Regions from separate parts of the Homo sapiens genome. Here region 1 is linked to region 2. The links come from fine-mapping of genetic effects on gene expression. A gene starts in region 2. The other region holds a variant in brackets. All regions are shown on one strand. Distances are from middle to middle. Region 1 overlaps ZFP28 (ZFP28 zinc finger protein). Region 2 holds the start of ZNF471 (zinc finger protein 471).

Region 1 (5,377 bases), 41 kb before region 2:
AACAAATAATGAGCAAAAGTTTTCATGTAAATAACCAATACTTTCAAGATGCAATTAAACTCATACATCTAATTGTTGCTAGTCACCAAAAACAAAAAAACTTTCAGAGCCTAGCAGGTGCTCATATCCAGGAATACAGCAATCCCCAAAATGTGTAGTTTTCACTTAACTTGAAAAAAATCTATTATAATTGTATCTTTAATACTAAGAAATGTAAAGCAACCTAAGTGAGCAATGGTATATACAACGTGGAATCCACATGAAAAACGTGTATGCGTAACTGAATATACACTGTAATTTCTACTATGTGAAAAAATGTGTGTTTATCCTGACTTAAATGGATCTAAGGTGTATGTTGTGATAACGTCACGGTTTTATATTCTTTTGCCAAACAGTAAACAATTACATTTTCTACAAACCATTATTTTCTATGGAAATTTCCTTTCTTTCCCTTGTGCATCAAGAGGAAAAGATCCTTTACTTCCACCTTCTTGCAATTCAACTTCTACCCACCTGTCCTACTAAAACATAGACACCACTGGGAACAACATCTCCTTTGTCTCTATAATGCCCTATTTGAAATTCTGCAAACTCTACTTCATGCAAGCTATCCATAAACATGTCTTATCCTTTCCATTAGAGTAATTCACTGATGGCTTACATTTATGTGTAATTCTCCCTTTTTCCAATCGCCTGCCAATACTCAGCAGAGTGGCTCAATCCCATAACTTTCAATTTGTGGTTCTCACAGGAATGGATGCATGATGAAAACAATAGGCCATTTAACCACAGAAGAGAAAACCTTTGGAAGTCAGCTCAAAAGTGCATCAGGGTCCAGAAAAGATCATTTAAGGAAGCAAGTGGATGATACACGTCCCAGTGGCCAAGAAAAGAAGGAACTTCAGGGAAATGGCAGTTACTGGAGAGAAGGGGGCAAAGGAGGAGGAAAGAATTATTTGGAACTCCCAGAGTTCAATTTTCTTTCCAGACCCAGAGACCCTGGGTAAAGTTTCCTACTGTATATTAGTGAGGATGCAGCCTTTTTGGTAAAAGCTCCGCTCTCTCTTGCAGTAGATTTTCCACACCAGGCTCTCCTGCACTCACCTGAGAACAGGCTTCCTGTCAGCTCTCGCTTCACCATCCAGGGCTCCTTCTCTTGCTCTAGTAAAGAGACTAAATCTGGCTTAGCCACACAATGTCCTGAAAAAGTGAAAAGAGATGAGGTTTGGCCAATAGTCTTGGCATCCTAAAATTGAGAACCACTTCCTTGTTGATAGAAAAGTGTTACTGCTGAAAGAAACAGAAAAACAGGTGAGTAGGATCTGAAAGACACAAGAAGATAACGCTTCAAGCCTAACAAAGACACCAACTTTCACCTCTACAAATGCCAAATTCTTATCTTAGGAATCCACAAAATTCAGGCCAGCATGTCAGAAGACACCCCCTCCCTCCTCCATAATTCAAAACTGAAGTTTGGAAATGGAGGTACCCGACGATAGATTCAAATATGGGAGAGGGACATCCTTACCTGCTGATCCCAGGTCACTGTTGTTCTCCCATATCCCATTCTTACAGAAATTCTTCTGAGCTGGGTGTAGCTGCTGGCGGAAGTCAACAGCCAGGTTTTTGATAGTCACCAAGCCCTGCAATGGTAAAAGCACGTTTTTTAAATCAAACCATGTTCGTGAACTCACCTGGTCTCAGTGGGATGGACTGTGTCCACACTGCAAAAAAGGCACTCCATACCAAGAACTGCAACTTAAGTTCTGGTACACCAGGTCAAATAATGACAGGGCTTAGTTATAGCATACATGTTTGGGGAAAAACACAGAAAAATAGGAGAAACTTTCTGCTATGGAGAGTTTGTCATACTTACACACAGTATGAACTTACACACAGTATGAACCTTTTAACAGACGGAAGGCTTTCCCATATTCATACAAATTATTCAACAAGTCCACAGAGTTTTTCTCTTGTATGAAATCTTTGATGAAAAGGAGGGGTTGATATTCTGCTCAAAGCTTTTTTTTTTTGAGACGGAGTCTTGCTCTGTCACCCAGGCTGGAGTGCAGTGGCGCGATCTCGGCTCACTGCAAGCTCCGCCTCCCGGGTTCATGCCATTCTCCTGCCTCAGCCTCCTGAGTAGCTGGGACTACAGGCGCCCGCCAGCACGCCCGGCTAATTTTTTGTATTTTTAGTAGAGACAGGGTTTCACAATGTTAGCTAGGATGGTCTCGATCTCCTGACCTTGTGATCCACCCGCCTCGGCCTCCCAAAGTGCTGGGATTACAGGCGTGAGCCACCGCGCCTGGCCTCTGCTCAAAGCTTTCTTACATTCATCACAAGTCAAACATTTCTGACCTTGACAGATTTGTTTGTAATTCATTACAACTCAATTTCCCCCTCCACTGTTCTTATGTGTATGGAGATTAGGCACTCTCTGTTCTGAGGGGATAATCTGTCTATAAGAAGCATTGTATTCAAATGAAAACTTCTCTTATAGTTGTTGTAGTCATGGTCTCTTCCCTCAAGAAGAGTTTCCTCATGAAGGATCCTTCCTCTTGCCTGAAATTTGTCTTGTGACTTACCGGCTGTGTCTCAAACAGAGCATCATAATCCCAGTGTTCCCCTAACAGAGAGTACTCCAGATTATAGCTTGTGAGTCTCTCTGTTATCACTGCCTGGGATAGCTTTCCTTCGCAGAAGTCCTTCTTGAGAGGTAACTCCTTGATCTTCCACACAGCCTTCAAGTCTGAAAGAC[G/A]TAAAGAAGGTAAATTTATCTTTTATCATGTGTTAGTATGAAGAAAAATTCCAAAATGCAACCGTTAAATTAAAAGCCACAAAAAAGCATATAGTCATTTATTTTTATGGAAGAAAATGAAAAGCATATCATTTTGAAAGCTTTCTTATATTACTAGCAATATTCAACCAACCCTACATTCCTAAATTTGTGTAGCCATAGTCCTAAAGGCCACAATAAGACCTTTCCCACCTAAAAGTTGAATAAGAGTTCACATTATGTTTTTAGCAGAAGACTGGAAAAAGCAATTAAAAATCAAGAGATAAGGGAGCTCACAAAGACTTAAATGTAAAATAAAATGTCTAATATAAAGAGAAAGTGGAGGCTATAGAAGAAAACTGCCATATGATCCTTATTTCAGCTTTAAGTCAACTCTTTTTCACTCCTTGTCCATTTCATCTAGAAAAAATTTCATCTCTATCTCTACATACCTCCTTTTTTTTTATTACGATGCTAACTAATAAAAGTCCAGATCCTGGCCTTAAAAATGTAAGTCTTCACAATTAACTAGTCTCAAGAAGAGATGAATGATCTGCAGGAAGAAAAAACAGTTCTATCTCATTAAACTAGCTCAAAGTATGTGATTTCATATGATGTTAAATTGGAAACTTTCACACATTCTTGTTCTCTTATGCTATATGATGACCCATGTGAGTCACTTTAATTTATAACTGTCAGTAACTTGTCCTGTTGTCAATGCAAGCGTTTCCTTTGAAGTGTGAATTGAACAAAGAAACCTTGTAAGATTCCCAATGCTTTAGAAACTGTAACCATTTCCTGTTAGGATAAAACCTCTGAAAGAAATCTATAATTCTAATTCCTTGTCTTAATAATTTGCTGTTCTGGAAATAATACTGTAGTTGAAATTTCTGTATTCCCAAATAGTAAAAATAACAGATATTCCTAAGCAAGAGGCTTAGGAAGAGTCTGCTGAAGATGTTGCGTGTCTGAGTCAGCTGAACTATGACCAGCAGTGGCCTCACCCTACCTGGTTCTCCCACACTCACCTGGGCACCAGGCTCTTGTCATCTTTCGCTTCACTGTCCAAGGCTCTTTTCCTTGTTCCAACGAGGAGATCACATCGGGCTTAGAAACACAAAGTCCTAGACACATAAAAAACAACCTGGTCATACTGTGTGGCTGTCCAGACTGAGATGCAGTCCCCTTGGCTTGACGCAAGAGGGCAGTGCAGGTCTGGGTGATAAAGGCATGAAAGGCTTCTTAGTCCAGGACGTGGGTAGGGTGAGGGGTGGGAAAAGGGGTGGGAGCCCTTACCCAGCGATGCCAGGTTCCTGTAGTTCTCCAACATCACCTTCCTGTACAAGTTCCTCTGAATGGGGTTCAGCCACTCCCACTCCTCTTGGGAGAAATCTACAGCCACATCCCCAAATGTCACCAAGCCCTGAAATGATATAACCATGTTCTTGCTCAACCAGTGCTCATGCCCCCACATGACTGGGGGTTTGTTATAGAAAGAAATGTGTCCCCTGACAAAACTCCTACATTAAACTCCTAATCCCCAGTACTTTTGAATGTGACTGTATTTAGAGACAGGGCCTACAAAGAGGTAATTAGGGTTAAATGAGGTCATATGGGTGGGGCCCTAACCCAATCTGTCTGGTGTCCTTATTAAAACAGGAAGAGATACCACGGTGTGCAGGCACAGGGAAAAGACCACGTGAGGACACAGAGAGAAGACGGCCGTCTGCAAGCCAAGGAGAGAGGCCTCAGGTGAAACCAAACCTGCAGGCACCTTGATCTTGGACTTCCAGCCTCCAGAAGCTTGAGAAAAGAAATTTCTGTTGTTTAAGACACCCATTCTGTGGTATTTGTTCTGGCAGCCCTAACAAACTAATATAGGGATCTAAAGATTCCTTGTCTTCATTTTGAGTAAGAGACTATAAACTCAGAACTGTGGAGATCTAGTTAGGTATTGTACAGCTAGCCTCATTCTGTCTTAAACTCCAGGTAAAAGAGAAAAATATGGAGACAGCCCCTGACTTTGGAGAACTTGCAGTTTTGTGGAGGTGAAAGGAGGCAGCCACAAGAAAAACCCCTGACATCAATTCAAAACTATAAATAACAAAGACTAACTTGTTCTATGCACAACAGGTACTACAGCACTGTCCAACATGGGGACATGTGAGTGGCCTGAAGCAGCACAAGAACTGGGCAATAAACTTGAGATGAACCTCAAAGCATCAATATTATTCATGACTAAACTGGGTTCTAAGAATTTCTATTTTTACTCTCAGTGTTCAGTAGAGGTCATTAAAAAAAAATCTAGCAATTTTTTTTTCTAAAATGAATATGTAATAAGAATGAAAAACAAAAAGCACTATAATGTTTTTAATTAATGAAATGCCTTTACGAACCAAGGTGCCATCTTGGAGAAGCTAGGCATTATGAGGAGCTATCAGGAGCACATTTGCTAACAGCTTGGCATGAGCAGGATTTTCTTGACCAACTGGCAAGATGGGGCTGCTCAGCTCCTGCTGGCAGATTTTTATGGAGCATAGTTTTACAAATTCAGCCTACAACTCTGATACGTTCCAATGTATTTTAAACATCTATTCA
Region 2 (5,377 bases):
TCTCTCCATACACAGCAGTCATACAGGGCCACAATTATGGGTATACAGGGTGACATACAAACACTAACACAGGTTTCATGGTCACACGGAGGACACAATCACAAGCACCCCAAAACAAGCACATATACACAGTCACATTTCCATTGCCTGAGGACATGAATATAAGCACACGTGGTGATTCACCAACACCTTCACACATACCCCCAATCTTACTTCTCTCACACACACAGCTCACTGTCCCTTATCTCTGTCTCACTCACACATGCATGCTTCACAACCTCACAGAGGTTATATTTGTAAAGCCTTTTGGATAACACACCATGGTTCACATAGTTTCTTTCTCACCCATTTTGGTCTCTCACACAACCACATCACTAGTCTTTCTCTCCCTCTTTCACACATATAAACATGATGGTCTCTCATACATACACATTCAATGGTATCTTTCAAAGAGGCCTCAGTTACTCAAATGCTCCAGTGTCTCACACAGATACACAAACACACTCTGATCTCTCATATTCCAACTGCTTTATCTCATGCACACAAAATACATACTGGTCACTCTCACTCCAATCTTTTTCATACTGTGATACACCCTCTCACAACCTACCAGTCCAGACAGAGACATACTCTAGTCTCTCACATACCCATTGGTCTCTCACACACTCACACCAACATACCCCAGTCTCTCCCAATCACTGAACTCTCAGTCTAGTCTCTTGCTTTTACTCAGACACACACATGATCTTTCTCAGACTCCAGGGAGCCTCATACTTGTTCATCTTTCACACAGGCACATCTATTTCTCTCACACATTGATATACCCTGGTCTCACACTCTGGATTCTCACAATCCAGTCCCTGATAACACACTCAGGTGACAAAGAGGAAAAACAAACTGTTTCTCCTACTCCACTCACACAACACAAAACAGTTCTAAGACCAGATGTGTGGGGATCTACACACACACACACACACACACACACACACACACACACACCAGGCAAGCAATAAGTTCTTCAGTGAATACCAGGTGGGTGACCTCTAGGGCAACCCAGTGAATACCAGGTGGGTGACCTCTAGGGCAACCCAATTCTGACACTATCTACCTGGAGACAGCATAAGATCCCACAGGTTGAGGGCTCAGCCCTACAAAATTGCTCCCCACTTCCAATGCCAGTTGCAAACCCCAGGTTGTTTTACTTGTGCTTCTGACTAGCTATAAATCGGGGTTCCTATGACCCCCTCCTTGCGTTCAATTAATTTGCTAGGGCAGCTCACAGAACTTAGGGAAACACGTTTGTAGTAATAAAGGATATTACAAAGGATGCAGGTGAAGAAATGCATAGGACAAGGTTATATAGGAAGGGGCTCATCCTACAGGAACCTCCAGTGTTCAGCTATCTGGAAGTTTGATGAACCCAGTCCTTTTGGGTTTTTATGGAAGCTTCATAATGTAGGCATGACTGGTTAAATCACTGACCACTGATGATCAGTTTAACCTGTGGCTCCCTTTCCTTTCCCTGGAGATTGAGGGATGGGGCAGGTAATCCCAACCCTCTAATCCTGCCTAGATTGTTCTTGTGACCATCCCTTACCGTGATCAACCTACAGGCTGCCAGCCCACCAATCATTAGCATGCAAAAAGACACTTAATACTTTGGAGATTCCAAGGATCTTAGAAGTCGTAAGCCAGGAAACATAACTTTGTCCTATACTTTGATCGCCTCCCTCTCTCTCACAAACTCATAACAACATAACCTAGTCTCACTCTTTGGACTCTCACAGTTTAGTCTCTTTCTCTCTCTCATACACACACACCAGCCTCTCAAGGAGCCTCACATAATGACTGGTCTTTCACACACAGCCACGTGCTCATCTCTCTCACACTCACTGGTCTCACGCTATGTTGTCTCTCACACACGAACACACCCTGGTCTCACACTCTGGTCTCTCTCAGTCTGTCAGACACACATAACACGGCCTCACACACTGACGGGTCTTTCACCCAAAACACCCATTTCTCACACTCACTGGTCTCCCTTTCACACATTAACATACCACAGTCTCACACTCTGTTCTTGCACAGTCTAGTCTCGCATACATGGTGATTCTTCTCTCTCTCGAACACACACCGGCCTCTCATTGAGCCTCACCCACCGACCGACCGGCCTTTCACACACAGGCACACGCCCATCTCTCACACTCACTGGTCTCTCACACTCCATCCAGCCCGTCTCACTCTCTCACACGAATACATCCTGGTCTCACGCTCTGGACACCTGGTCTGTTACACACTTACACACCCACACACCTCGCAACCTCTCACTGAGCTTCACACGCTCTCTTTCAAATGCAGGCACATCCCTATCTCTCTCACACTCACTGGTCTCTCACACTGGCCCGTCTCGCTCTGTCACACACGAACATACCCTGGTCTCACACTGGACTCTCGGTCTGTCACACACACACACACACACACACAGAAACCACACCCTCTCACGGAGCCTCACACTCTGACAGATCTTTTACACACAGGCACACCCCCATCTCTCCCACAGCTCACTCCAGTGGTCCCGCCGCCCCAAGCCGCCCCGAACGCCCAGCAGCCCCGAGCCGCGGCCTCCGCCCCGCAGACTCGAGTACGCGCGCCCCGCTGGCCTCTGGGAAATGTAGTCGTCCTGGGGACAGAGGACGCGGCTGGGCCTTCGCGACCCGCGTCGGAGCCGCCCGCCTCGCCTGCCCTTCCTGGCCCAGCCCTCGAGCTCGGACTCCCAAACCACCCAAAACAAACCCCCGGCCTCGTCTGGCACCCAGACGCTCTCATCCGAAGGACTCCGTGAGTCGACGCTGGAACCCCCCATCGCGCAGGCGCCAGCCTCTCTCCAGGGGTCGGACGAGAGGGGCGGAGACAAGGCGTGGCCTAGTGTTGAGGGGATTGTCCTCGGGCTGCTGAAGGAGTGAGAGGGACCTTAGAGCAGAGCGGGCGGTGCCTGCGCAGTGCGTGATTACGCGAGCCGGGCGTGGCCCAGGGTTCCGGCGGGTAAGAGCAGGAGTGTGCGCAGGCGCAAAGATTGCGCTCTCCCCCTCTCCTCGCCTAGAGACCAGAAGCGTCCCTAGTTACTAGTTCCTGGGGCCTGGGAGGGAAACGCGCGACGGCTGAGCCTTCGGTGTGAGTACGCGTGGGGCTTTGTGACGCTGTCTGTGCCTCTGTGATCGCGATGTCATTCGGAGCGCGGCCTTCTGTGCCAGTCCGTGGGAGTGTCATTATCTTTCTGTGTTAAGCTTATTTTGGAATAAGACAGCGACGAGGAACCCCGACCGTGTTGTGACTCTGGCGAATTAATACCTCTTTCAGCTGCAAATGGGAATGTCACTGATCAGAGGCAGTGAATAACACGACGTTTTTGGAACCAATCTGCTAGGCTTGAACCGCGTTCAGCCCCTTAACAAAATGGAAATGGTCCCCGTTTTAGGGGACTAGCCCTGACTAGGAGAACTGTAGAATTAGTATTGGAAGGTGAGACAAATAAGGAAAAGCAATTCAGGGGGATACAGCAGAGAAAAAAAAATCCCTGTCCTCTTATTATGTAATTTACTTTGAAGCGGAGAGAGACAAGCCACAAATTCATGAGTTAGATAAACAGTCTGATGAACAGTAAAAAGGGCTATGGAGAAATATAACTCAGAGAAGGTTGTATCGTATACATTTTTTCTATTGTCTCTTATAATGTCTTAACATGTCAAAAAAACCTGTCTGCAGCAGACACCAGCCAGGTGACCGCTACTCCAATTCAATTCTGACGCTACCTGGAAAACATCAGATCCTACAGGTTAGACAGCTCAGTCCCAAAAGACTGTCCCCCACTTCCCATGCCAATTCCAAACTCCAGATTGTTGTACCTGTGTTTCAGAGAGATGTGCTATAAATTGGGGCTCCCACAGCCGGCTCCTTGGGTTCCATTAGTTTGCTAGAGCAGCTCACAGAACTCAAGGAAACACTTATGTTTACTGGTTTATTATAAAAGATATTTTAAAGGATACAAATAGCCAGATGAAGAGACATGTAGGGCAAGGTCCGAGAGAATCCCTAGTGCAGGAACTTCTGTGCCCGTGGAGTTGGGGTGCACCACCCTCCCAGCACGAGGATGTGTTTTTGTCTACCTTCTTGGAAGCCGCTTGAACTCAGGCCTTTTCGGTTTTCAAGGTTTCATTATGTAGATGTGATTGATTAAATCATTGGCCACTGGCGATCAACTTAATTTTCAGGCTCTCTCTTTTCCCAGAAGTAGAGGGTGGAGCTGTGAGTTCCAGTCCTCTGAGCACATGGCTGGTTCCTCTGGCAACTAGCCACCACTCCCCCCAAATATTGGGATTATCTTGAGAGTTTCCAAAAATCACCTCATTAACATAAACTCATGTGTGGTTGAAATACTGTCTTTCACCTTTATGGCTCTGGAGCTGTTCTGGAGCTTTTTCAGGAACCAGGAACAAAAGGCCAGATATTTTAACAAAAGATACTTTATTGCTGCAGTCATTTAGGAAATTAAAAGAGCTGTAGGAACTGAGAGCCATGAACTGTACCTTTCTTTCTAACTCCACATTCAGTGATGTCATATTGGTAGATTGAAATCCACCACAAGGGGACTATTTACAGTATGGAAATACAGTCTACATCGCTAAAGGATGGAGATACATTCTGAGAAATGGGTTCTTAGGCAATTTCCTAAGAACCTTGTTGTGCAAACATCATAGAGTGTACTTACACAAACCTAGATTGTGTAGCCTACTACACACCCACACTCACTCAGACTGGGACAACTTAGACATACCAGTTAACTTACTGTGCACATCTTTGGGATGTGGGAGGAATCTGGAGTACCCAGAGAAAACCCATGGAGACATGGTGAGACTAGTCAGATTGCATTAGGACCCACCCTAACGACCTCATTTCAACTTAATTAACTCTGTAAAAATCCTATATCCAAATACAGTCACATTCTGAGGTACTGGGAGTTAGGACTTCAACATGCAAAATTTGGGGCAGACAAAATTCAACCAATAACAAGAGATTATTTTGATTCTTCTGTCCTCATTCATCCCACCAAGGAAGTAAGGGGTATTTCCATTATCATACTATATATTAAATTATCATTACATTACATATATAATGTTTTCTTTATCTAATTTTTACTTTATATATACCACATTTTTGTTCATGGGCCATCAAAGGTATTATCTCACATAATTCTTGTAAAAATAAAATTGAATAACTAACTTTACAGTTGAAGATTTAAACAATAAGGGACTTTTTCCAAAGCCACACATCTAATAAGTTTCAAAGGTATTACTCTAATTCAAGTTTCTTCTTTCCAAAT

Evidence for each region. PIP is the estimated chance that this variant, and not a neighbour inherited with it, causes the effect. A credible set is the group of variants that fine-mapping cannot tell apart.
Region 1: its variant is the best candidate, but not a certain one, in a credible set for the expression of ZNF471 in whole blood (TOPMed, PIP 0.84).

The regions. Positions count from the first base shown.
Region 1 is chr19:56,546,333-56,551,709 of GRCh38, reverse strand. ZFP28 (ZFP28 zinc finger protein) reads right to left here. Exons shown (of 8, transcript NM_020828.2): 3 at 4,076-4,202; 4 at 3,808-3,903; 5 at 2,589-2,752; 6 at 1,529-1,643; 7 at 1,105-1,200. ZNF470-DT (ZNF470 divergent transcript) reads left to right here. Exons shown (of 2, transcript XM_047439806.1): 2 at 4,439-5,377. Among named protein-coding and RNA genes, the nearest start is that of ZFP28, 10 kb to the right of the region's middle. RefSeq lists an enhancer at 3,227-4,426. The variant G/A (reference allele first, on the strand shown) is at 2,762.
Region 2 is chr19:56,505,337-56,510,713 of GRCh38, reverse strand. ZNF471 (zinc finger protein 471) reads right to left here and starts at 2,859. Exons shown (of 5, transcript NM_020813.4): 1 at 2,794-2,859.